Linked DNA regions of Homo sapiens: region 1 is linked to region 2. The links come from fine-mapping of genetic effects on gene expression. A gene starts in region 2. The other region holds a variant in brackets. All regions are shown on one strand. Distances are from middle to middle.

Region 1 (5,383 bases), 250 kb after region 2:
GAGCTACTGCACCTGGCCTTGAAACACCTTTATGGAGACATAACCCACATTCCATACATTCATCCATTTAAGTGTACCATTCAATGGTTTTTAGTATTTTCTCAAGATTGTGCAACCATTTAGAACATTTTTCATCACCTCCCCAAAACATCATGACCCATTTCCCTCCAACCTTTCCTGTCCTAAACAACTATGAATCTATTTTCTATCCTTATGGATTTGCCTATTCCAGCTCTATCATAGAAATGGAATAATGTGATAATGTCATCTCTTTTTCAAATTTATTTTTTAAACTGACTTCTAAAATTGTATGCATTTATTCTGTAAAACATAATGTTTTGAAGTATATATCATTTTAAAATGGTTAAATCTAGCTAATTGACAAATATATTACCTCAAATAGTTACAATTTTTGTGATGGAACACTTAACATTCATTCAGCATTTTTGTAGAATATAATATATCATTATGAACTATAGTCACCATGTTGTACAATAGGTCTCTTGAACTTATTCCTTCTATTTACAATACGTCACCCTTTGTGACAGGCTTCTTTCATGTAGCAAGGTTCATCCATATCACAGCATGTGTCCAAATTTTTAAATTATTTTTTATTCCTTTTTATTGTCAATTACTGTTCCATTCTATGAATATACATTTTATTTATTCATTCATCAGTTGATAAAAATTTGGGTTGCTGTAACTTTTTGACTATTACAAATAAGACTGCTAGGAACATTCATGTACAAGTATTATATATTTTTTTTTTTTTACATATTTTGGGTATATATCTAGGAGTGGAATAGCCGGTTAAACACATGAAAACTCTATGTTTAACCTTTTGGAGAACTGCTAGACTGTTTTCAAAAGCAGCTGTATCACTGTTTAGTCTCACCAGCATTGTGGAAATTCCAATTTCTCCACATCCTTGTCAACACTTATTATTATCCATCTTTTTTGTTTATAGCCATCTAGTGGAGATGCAGTGGAATCTCACTATTGTTTTTATTTTCATTTCTTTAGTGGCTAATAATGTTTGGTATCTTTACATGTACTTTTACACGTACTGGCCATTTGTATATATTCTTTTGAGAAATGTCTATTCAGATTCTTTGATGATTTAAAAATTGCATTATTTATTTATTGAGCTGTAAGTGTGCTTAATAATTTGTATACAAATCCCTTATGAGATACATGATTTGAAAATGTTTTCTCCCATTTTGTGGGTTACTTTTTCACTTTTCTTGATGATATCTTTTGAAACACAAATGTTTCCAATTTCGATGAAGCCAAACATATCTGTTTTTTCTTATGTCACTTGTGCTTTTGGTGTCATATCTAAGAAATCATTGTCTAACCCAAGGTCACAGGGATTTTTCTCATATTTTCTTCTAAGACTTTTTTAGTTTTAGCTCTTACATTTAGGCCTTTGATCCATTTTGAGCTCATTTTTATGTATGGTTTGAGGTAGGAGTCTAATTTCATTGTTTTGCATGTGAATATCAAGTTGTTCCAGCACCATTTGTCAAAAAACACATTTTTGCCCCATTGAATTGTCTTGTCATCTGTGTTGATAATAAATTGACCATAAGTATGAGGGTTTATTTTGGATTCTCAATTCTATTCCATTGATCTATTTGTCTGTCCTTATGTCAGTATCACAGTGCCTTCATTACTGTAACTTTGTAGTAAGTTTGAAATTAGAAACAGCAAGTCCTGTAATTTTCTTTTTCTTTTACAGAATTTTATTGCCTATTCTTGGTTCCTTCAATTTTATATGAATATTAGGATTAGCTGGTCAATTAATGCTAAGATGGCATTTGAATTCTGATAGGGATTGAGTTGAATCTATAGATCCATTTGTGTAGTATTGCTGTGTTAACAATGAATATCCTATATGTGAACATGGGAAGTCTTCCCAGTAATTTATGTCTTCTTTAATTTTTTTCAAAATCTTTTGTGGTTTTCAGTGTATGAGTTCTACATTCTTTTGCTAAATTTAATATTATTATTTTTGATACTATTGTAAATGCAATCATTTTCTTATTTCATTTTCAGATTGTTCATTGCTTGTGTATAGAAATACAATTGACTTTTATATATTTCTTTTGTGTTCTATAAACCTTACTGTACTCATTTATTAGTTCTAATAGTTTTTTTGTATATTTCCTGCTTTTTCTATATATGAGATCATGGCATTTGTGAATAGAGTTTTATTTTTTCCTTTCCAATCTGGATGCATTTTATATTCTTTTTCTTGCCTAATTGCACTGGCTCAAACCTCTAGTACAATTTTGGCTAGAGGAGAGTAGATATGTTTTTTTGTTGTTGTTGTTGTTCTTGAGGTTAGGGGGAAAGCATTCAGTCTTTTACTGCTAAGTATGATGTTAGCTGTGGGTTTTTAGCAGATGCTCTTTATCAGGCTAAGGAAGTTATTTTGTATTCCTAATAGGTTGAGTAGTGTTTTGTTTTGTTTTGTTTTGTTTTTAATTGACACATAAAAATTGTACATATTTATTAGATACAATGTGATGTTTAGATATGTATATACATTGACTGATGATTAAATGAGTAAACCCATCCCCTCAGACATTTATCATTTATTTATGGTGAGAACATTCGAAATCCTGTCTTCTAGCTATTTTGAAATATACAACACATTATTGTTAACTATAGTTTCTGTACTGTGCAACAGAACACCAGATGTTGAATGTTTTTAATTGTAAAGAGATGTTGGATTTTGTCAAATACTTTTTTTGCACCTATTGATAATCAACTTCTACACAAGTTTTTTTTTTTTTTTTGAGACGGAGTCTCGCTCTGT[T/C]GCCCAGGCCGGACTGCGGACTGCAGTGGCGCAATCTCGGCTCACTGCAAGCTCCGCTTCCCAGGTTCACGCCATCCTCCTGCCTCAGCCTCCCGAGTAGCTGGGACTACAGGCGCCCGCCACCGCGCCCGGCTAATTTTTTGTATTTTTAGTAGAGACGGGGTTTCACCTTGTTAGCCAGGATGGTCTCGATCTCCTGACCTCATGATCCACCCGCCTCGGCCTCCCAAAGTGCTGGGATTACAGGCGTGAGCCACCGTGCCCGGCCTCTACACAAGTTTTTAAACCAACAAATCATCCTACTTCCCTGTTTCTACATCCCTCTCTCATGAACGCACACAATCTCTCTAAAAGCAAATTAGATTCTCAATATCAAAACTTGCTGAAGGGTGGGTGAGTGAATAGCCAAGACATCTTGATCCCAGCTATCTTTGTACCCGGTTGAGGTATAACCAACATCCCTCCCAAAAAAGTGGCAATTAGAGGTCAAATATGTTTTTCATGCACAGAGGCTATGTATGATATGTGGGAAATACTCCATAACTTTTCTTCCTTTCTTCACTGTAGAGCGAAAATATTAGTACAAAATGAGAGGAGTATGCAGGAACTATACTAAGCGTGTGTGCAGCTAAAATAAAACAGAAAATGAGCAAAAGTTTACTTACACAAGAAATGTGTTAAAGTCTACTTGATTTGCTTAGAACTTTCTGGTGCAGGATTCCGCATTTTTAAAAATTCTATTTCATGTTTATTTTTCAAGGCTTCTCATATCACTTTTCATATTTCAGGAGTCTGGGTGGCGACCATTTTGCCCGCGTATCTCACGTGTGTGAGCTATCTGTTCCACATTTTGGTCTGTTACAGGTAAGAGTACTCTCAGAGTCATTTGTTTGTCTTTCACCAGGAATATGTATGACAAGCTTTCCTCAGAATCTCCAAATAGTGCCTGCAGTGGGCCTAGGAAGTGAATGCAAGGTCCAGGACTAACCACATCTTTTAGTAGGAAGAAGAAAAGCATTATTGATTTGAACTTCTACAATGAGCTAACATTATGCTTAGAGTCTTCACTTGAATTTCACAACAACCCTGAGGGATAAGTACTTTCATCCCTATTTTTACAGTTGAGAAAGCTGAAAATCAACCAGATTAAATAACTTGCCCAAGCAATTAGCAGATGATCAAGTCTTTCTGACCCCAGAGACCTTGTTATTTCTTGTACACTCAGACACCTCTATTGGGTATCAGACCTGCCTTGCTCTACAGGGCTAGTAACACTGGGTCCCCAGCAGGTGAATCTGGCTCAAGGGAACATCAGTGAATATTGAATCAAGGGGACAAAGGACATCCATCTCAAGAAAAGCAGTATAGGAAGAGGGAATGGCTTTAAACATGGTGTGAGCATTTGCACGCAGATATCAGTTGGGTTTTAGGTACCTGCTGGTCACCTCTCTCTCTCTCTCTCTCTCACACACACACACACACACACACATGCATGCACACACGCACGCACACACACACAGTCTTACAGGAAGCCCAGGCCAATATCCAGCTCTGAAGAGCATCCTGCCTTTACATCCTCCTCTTATGCCTGCCCAAAGGGTGAGTCTCTTGCAGAGGACACCCACAAGAAGACTCTCCTGGCATGAAGGGTCCCAGCTCTCCACCAGCCCTGCCTTGCTCCCTTTCTCTACTTTCTTCTCATTGGACCCCACAGGTGGTCTGGATACTGCTACTACCTCTGCCCTGCCTGATGTGTGCACATGTCTCCTCCTTCCCTCATTAGTCTGCATGTGGCTGGGAGATATTCACTGAGACATTTGAGCACAACCAGGGACAAGCACGATGCAAAGGAAGCTGCATGGACATGGATGTGTGGCCAAGGGCACAGGGAGAGGAGGCCTGCATTCCCGTCCAGGCTGCCCTTGCCCCTACCTGTCACCCAGGAGTGATGATGCCTGCCCTGCTTCCTTATCAGAACCATGGGGCAGAGGACACCAAGGATGAGAAACACACTACAAACTGTAGAGCACTAGCATTGTGTCAGCATTGTAGTTTTTATTATTCCAACCTACATACAGGTGCGTTAAAAAATATTACAAAAAATGTTTAGCGTAAAGTAAGTCTTCCTCCTACTCAAACCCCTAATTTTTTGCCCTAAGATAACCACTGTTAACTGTTTTCTGTGCATACTTCCAGAAATTTTCCATGCACAATGCAAATATGAGTGTGTGCTCTGTGTGTGTTGTATGTATTGGTGGTACCACACTCAACTCCATGCTGCCAAACAGAAACAAAATGAAATTCACATGTTCAATTTTGAAAGTTCTAGTAGCCTCTGTTTAAAAACTAAAAATAGACAGGTTACATTAGTCTTAATAATGTTTTATTTAATCCAATATATCTCAAATATTATCATTTCAACATGTAATATATACAAAAATTATTATTGAGATATTTACATTCTGTATTTGTTCCAAGTCTTTCCAATTTAGTGGTCATGAAAAGTACAAAACAGGCTGAAAACTGCTGGAGAGAGAATGTGAAATTAAAAAACTAGGA
Region 2 (5,383 bases):
AGGCCGGGCTAATTTTTTTGTATTTTTAGTAGAGACGGGGTTTCACTGTGTTAGCCAGGATTGTCTTGATCTCCTGACCTCGTGATCCGCCTGTCTCGGCCTCCCAAACTGCTGGGATTACAGGTGATCCACCACGCCTGGCCAAAGGCTAATAATTTATAATGACAATACTCACGGTTTGCAGATGTAGATTCTACCATATAAAATGTGAATTCTGAAAAAAGTATCTGTTATCTCTGAAAGTGTTCCACTTTCCAAAAGCAGAGCACGAATGACAAGATAAGGAGCTCCATTTACCACTGCTACATATGGATAGGATTCCTCAGAGTCCAGGCCTCCGTTCTCCTTGACATACTGGAAGGCCCTAGCCATGAAGCCACCATTGCAGCCCTGATTGCCTTGAGGACGCGAACAGTCCACCAGATTCTGCTCGCTCAGTGAGACAAGTTTCCCAGTTTTCCGGAACATCTGTCCTTCAAGAGCACCAGTCGCACTAAAAGCCCAACAAGAACCACACTGTTTCTAAAAAGGGAGAAAAAAAAAGCTGTAAATTTACAAGACCAATACAAATACAGTACCCCATAATTGAATTACCTTAATATTCTTTAAAAAAAAAAAAAACCCATCGCCACACTTTGGGAGGCCGAGGCGGGCAGATCACTTGAGGAGAGGAGTTTGAAATCCGCCTGGCCAACATGGTGAAACCCTGTCGCTACTAAAAATACACAAAAATTAGCTGGGCATGGTGGTGAGCACTTGCAATCCCAGCTACTCGGGAGGTGGAGGCAGGAGAATCTCTTGAACCCAGGAGGCAGAGGTTGCAGTGAGACGAGATCACGCCATTGCAATCCAGCCTGGGCAACAAGAGCTAAACTCCGTCTCAAACAAGCAAACAAAAAAAACACCAAAAACCAAAAATACAAAAAACCCATCACCATATGTTGTGCCACCATCTACCACAGCAATGACACCAATTCCTTCTTGGCTTTCCTGTGGAGACAGGGTCTGAATCTGACGCTGTCTCACCTGATTCTTCACTGGCGTCACGTAGCCTTTCTTTCTCCAATCCACAGATTTGGGAAGATCAAGAAACAGAGGCTCACGGAACACTTTCCCCTTCCTGAATTTCTGGTTTCGAAAGCAACCCATCATCTGCCTGAATTCTTCATTGGTCTTCAAGGAGAAGTAAATAAAATGTTAAAAGCAAGACTATTTTGGTGAAGAACTGAGAAGCAGCACAGAGTTCAGCAATCCTTGCCACACTCACCATGTCACCAAAAGCATTCATGGCCATTGTGAAGCCATGTTTCCCTTGGCTGTATTCCCCATTGTGCAGTTCAATCATTTTCATATTCTTTTCCCACACTGCTCTCCTCCATCCTTCTTCATTCTAGAGGCAAACATATAGCTGGTGGACTTTATGTCTACTTACCCAACCCATGTTCACCAAGCCGATTTGCGGGCAGAAATGGAAGAGAAACCATGGCCAGGGATGGGTTGATACTTCTCTGGGAGCTGTTCTCCAAGCCAAGACACAATGGAGATATATGCCCATATTGCACCTATAATGGGTGCTGTTAGGTTATTGCCTGGTAAGGTCTGGTGTCTAGAAGCTACTCTCTGGCTATCAACTCCCAACAGCGAGGACCATTCTCTCCAGAGTCCCTCTGGACAGTTTCAGATGTTACCAACCGCGCCATATAATCTTCTGTGTGTTGCCTTCCACTGGTACCACTTTGTATCCAAATTTTGGTCAAATTTTGGAACAGCGGAGGCTATTCCCAAGCAAAAGGCAGCCAGGACGAGCGAAAGATTCATGTTTCAAAACCTAGAAAGAGAAAAGAAATGAGTATCTGATTAGACCAATCCTAAAAAGCCATCTTACAGCCCCCGTGGAATAGAAATATTTCAATTATTCTCCCTAGCATTTCCCCAAGGACTGTGGAAGAGGCTGAAACAGGCCAAGTGGAGGTATTTGATGGGCCCACCAAAATTAAAAGCAGCCTGCAGAGTTGGAGGCGTTGAAACAGCATATGCGATAATTTAGGGTATGAGAAGGGTGTGAAAGATACCTGACGGGTGAGAAGCTTAAGGCAACAACTAGAAAACTAGGAAAGAGTTGGTCCAGGTTTTGCACCAATTGTACTGAGGTCATCCAGGCAAAACCTCACTAATGAAGACGTACCATCCCAAGTAGATGCAAGCGGATCCCCAAGGAACACCACCTCACACCTTCTTGGCTGATACACAGCAGGAGATGAGCTATGTCTTCCAACCTCTCCTTTTGGAATAAAACCTTTCGGGAATCCCTTTCCAGGAGACACTGGGAAGGAGAGCACCCACTATTCCCGCCGTCCCACACTTGGGTCTGTGCTACTCGCTCCCCTAAACCGGGGCAGGGTCACAAGGCCGCGCCGCTGGAAGCCAGGGGCCCCAGGGCCAGGGCCCGGACCGAGGCAGGCAGCTCCCGGAGCTCCGGGCGGGCCAGGACCGGGGCCGCACCGCCTGCTCTCGCCCTCTGCACGCGCCGCCGCGCCCCGAGAATGTTTGCGGCGGTGCAGGGAGCGGGGGCTCCGCGGCCAGGCTGGGGGCATGAAGCCGCCCGGTCCGGTCCGGCTTCAGCCCACAGGATGACTGACCTGCCCCGCCCGGGCCCTCCCAGTGGTGCCGGCGCCTCCCTGGGGTCTCCAACCGCCCTCCCCCGTTCCCCACCTCGAGGCTGGCAGAGCTCCGGGCAGAAGCTCTCACTCCCAGAAGCGCCCGCCTCCTCTCAGTGTCCCTAAAGGGGGGTTCCCTCCTCCAGTCCCCCTTCGCCCTGTCCCTCGGTCTGGTCGGGGGCGCTCACCAGCAGCCGTCGCAGCTGCGCAGGCACCCTCAGCAAACAAGCCTCTGAGATTACAGACGTCCGCGGTCTGGTGCAGGTTCGCCCGCCTCGGGATTTAAGTTTCCAGGCGGCCTTCCCCGCCCCCACCGCCTTCCCGCGCTGCGATTGGCTGTGCCGGCCACTGGGCGGGGCCCCGGGCGCTTAGAGCCCGCGCGTGACGCAGCCCAGTCCCAACCCGTCTCAGGTCTGGGCGCGCCTACCTCAATACACCCTGGCTGCGGGAAGCTGGGCCGGGCGCCCGGGGGCTGCGCGGAGGAGGGGGAGGCGCCTCCCTCAAGGGCTCAGATCTACTGACTATCCCGACTTACTGCGCTGAGCGGGTGGTTTACAGCGAGCTCTGTGTGGTATTTCAGTCCCTACTTTAACTTAGTCCTAGAGTTTTTGGTGAAAATCTGCAGGGCCGGGAGCCAGGGTACTCTCGTTCAGTGGCTCCTGTTTAGTCCACGGCAAAGGTGGGACGGAGTGGAAGAACGCACAGCCCCCAGCAGAAGCATTACCTTCCACTTAAGGGTGGGTGCATCAGGGCTTTAGAAGAATCTGGTAAGGAAAGGCACTCCCAAAACACGGGATGGATGGTCGAGACCGGACACCAGGAGGGACGGGACTAGCTGATAGGGTGTCCAGAGACCGCGGAGCGTTTTGTGGTGCGTCCTTCCCAGTCTGTTGCATTCAGGAATTCTTCCTTCTCCCATGTCTTTCAATACCAAAAAAAAAAAAAAAAAAAAAAAAAAGAGTTACAGAAATATTTGGTTAATAAAAAAGAGAAAAGCGTTGAGAATGGTGAAATAAATTGCTTTAAAAATTTTTCTTTTGTAGAAATGGAGTTTGGCTAAGTTTCCTTAGGCTGCTCTTGAATTCCTGGCCTCAAGCGATCCTCCCCTCTCAGCCTCCCAAAAGTGGTGGGATTACAGGCGTGAGCCACTACGCCCAGTCTGAGAGTGGTGGAAATTGCTTTTACTTACCTACTCTCTGCTTATGGGTTACAACGTCTCTTCCTCAGTATTCAAAGTGTGCTTCTTTTGAGATTTAATAAATTTACTTTAAAAATGTTTAATACCGGCCGGGCGCGGTGGCTTACACCTGTAATCCCAGCACTTTGGGAGGCCGAGGCGGGCGGATCACGAGGTCATGATATCGAGACCATCCTGGCCAACATGGTGAAACCCTGTCTCTACTAAAAATGCAAAAATTAGCTGGGCGTGGTGGCGGGCGCCTGTAGTCCCAGCTACTCAGGAGGCTGAGGCAGGAGAATTGCTTGAACCCGAGAGGCGGAGGTTGCAGTGAGCTGAGATCGTGCCACTGCACTCCAGACTGGTGACAGAGCGAAACTCTGTCTCAAAAAATAAAAATAAAAATAAAAATATATAATATCAGGGTTGAGGTGATGCAGTTTGAGGAACTGCTCTTTATGGAGAAATATATGTAGCTAAAGATTTAAGGAAATCATTAATAATTCAGAAACGTTTCTAATTCTTTTTAAAGTTATATAAAAAAATCCATTATAAAAAATATGTTTTAGAAAATAAACGTCCCTTGTGCCCTCTCCATAACCCTTTTCTAGGCATATCTTTTTTTGTTTTTACAAAAATGAAGTTATAATGCATATTGATTAATAAACTCTTAAAGATTAAATTGAATAATATCCACAGTTTTTACTTGTTAATTTGAAAATTTGTGAAATCAAGTTTAGCCTAAAGCTGCCTCCCCATGTGATTTAAGTTTGGCCTAAAGGTTTCTCTGTACATAGCGAATTGTAATCTAAATGGAGGTGTAAACAGACTGTAGCCTGCTCTTGTGCCTATCCCCGAATTTCTGTAAATCAAAGAGGTTCAGTTGTTCAAACCATGTTCAAATAAGGCAAACATGGAGCTGTATCCAATCCTGCAGTTTCTGTGCCTCACTTGCCCTTTTCTGTCTATAAATCTTCCCCCATGTGGCTGCACTGGAGTCTCTCTGAGCCTACTCTGGCACTGGAGGCTGCCAGATTCACGAATTGTTTTTTGCTCAATTAAATTCTCTTAAATTTAATTTGGCTATGGATTTTCTTTTAACAAATTAAAAACAATTAAACTGACAACTTTTCAGAAGCACCATCAGGCAAATACATCTTTTTAAAAATCAATTTATTAATAATTATATGTCCTTCCTTTAAATAAATAGCAGCTTTTCCCTCTCAAATACAACTAGGGGCCAAAGCTGTCAGGTGGTTATATAAAAAATACAAAAGTATATTGTATTGCAGGCCAAGGTAGGTGGATCTCCTGAGCCTGGGAGTTTGAGACCAGCCTGGGCAACATGGCGAAATCACACCTCTACCAAAAATACAAAACAAACAAACAAAAATTAGCCAGGCATGGTGATGCATGCCTGTAGTCCCAACTACTTGGGAGACTGAGGTTGTAGTGAGCGGAGCAGAGCATGCGCCACTGCACTCCAACCTGGGTGACAGAGCGAGATGCCGTCCCAAAAAAAAAAAAAAAAAAAAAAAAGCATCTTGTA

Alleles and levels. Alleles are on the strand shown, and positions count from the first base shown. SD is a standard deviation of normalised expression in the study named.
For the expression in iPS cells of the gene that starts at base 2,917 in region 2, allele C in region 1 goes with a lower level than allele T (large effect, 1.0 SD a copy in PhLiPS).

What was found. PIP is the estimated chance that this variant, and not a neighbour inherited with it, causes the effect.
Region 1: its variant is the best candidate, but not a certain one, in a credible set for the expression of CTSV in iPS cells (PhLiPS, PIP 0.68).

Annotation. Positions count from the first base shown.
Region 1 is chr9:97,284,048-97,289,430 of GRCh38, forward strand. It overlaps SUGT1P4-STRA6LP-CCDC180 (SUGT1P4-STRA6LP-CCDC180 readthrough), which reads left to right. Exons shown (of 45, transcript NR_036529.1): 9 at 3,613-3,688. It also overlaps the pseudogene SUGT1P4-STRA6LP. Among named protein-coding and RNA genes, the nearest start is that of CCDC180, 21 kb to the right of the region's middle. The variant T/C (reference allele first, on the strand shown) is at 2,825.
Region 2 is chr9:97,036,226-97,041,608 of GRCh38, forward strand. It overlaps CTSV (cathepsin V), which reads right to left and starts at 2,917. Exons shown (of 8, transcript NM_001333.4): 1 at 2,846-2,917; 2 at 1,693-1,828; 3 at 1,268-1,390; 4 at 1,027-1,173; 5 at 298-522. The coding sequence starts at 1,818. RefSeq lists a silencer at 2,952-3,261.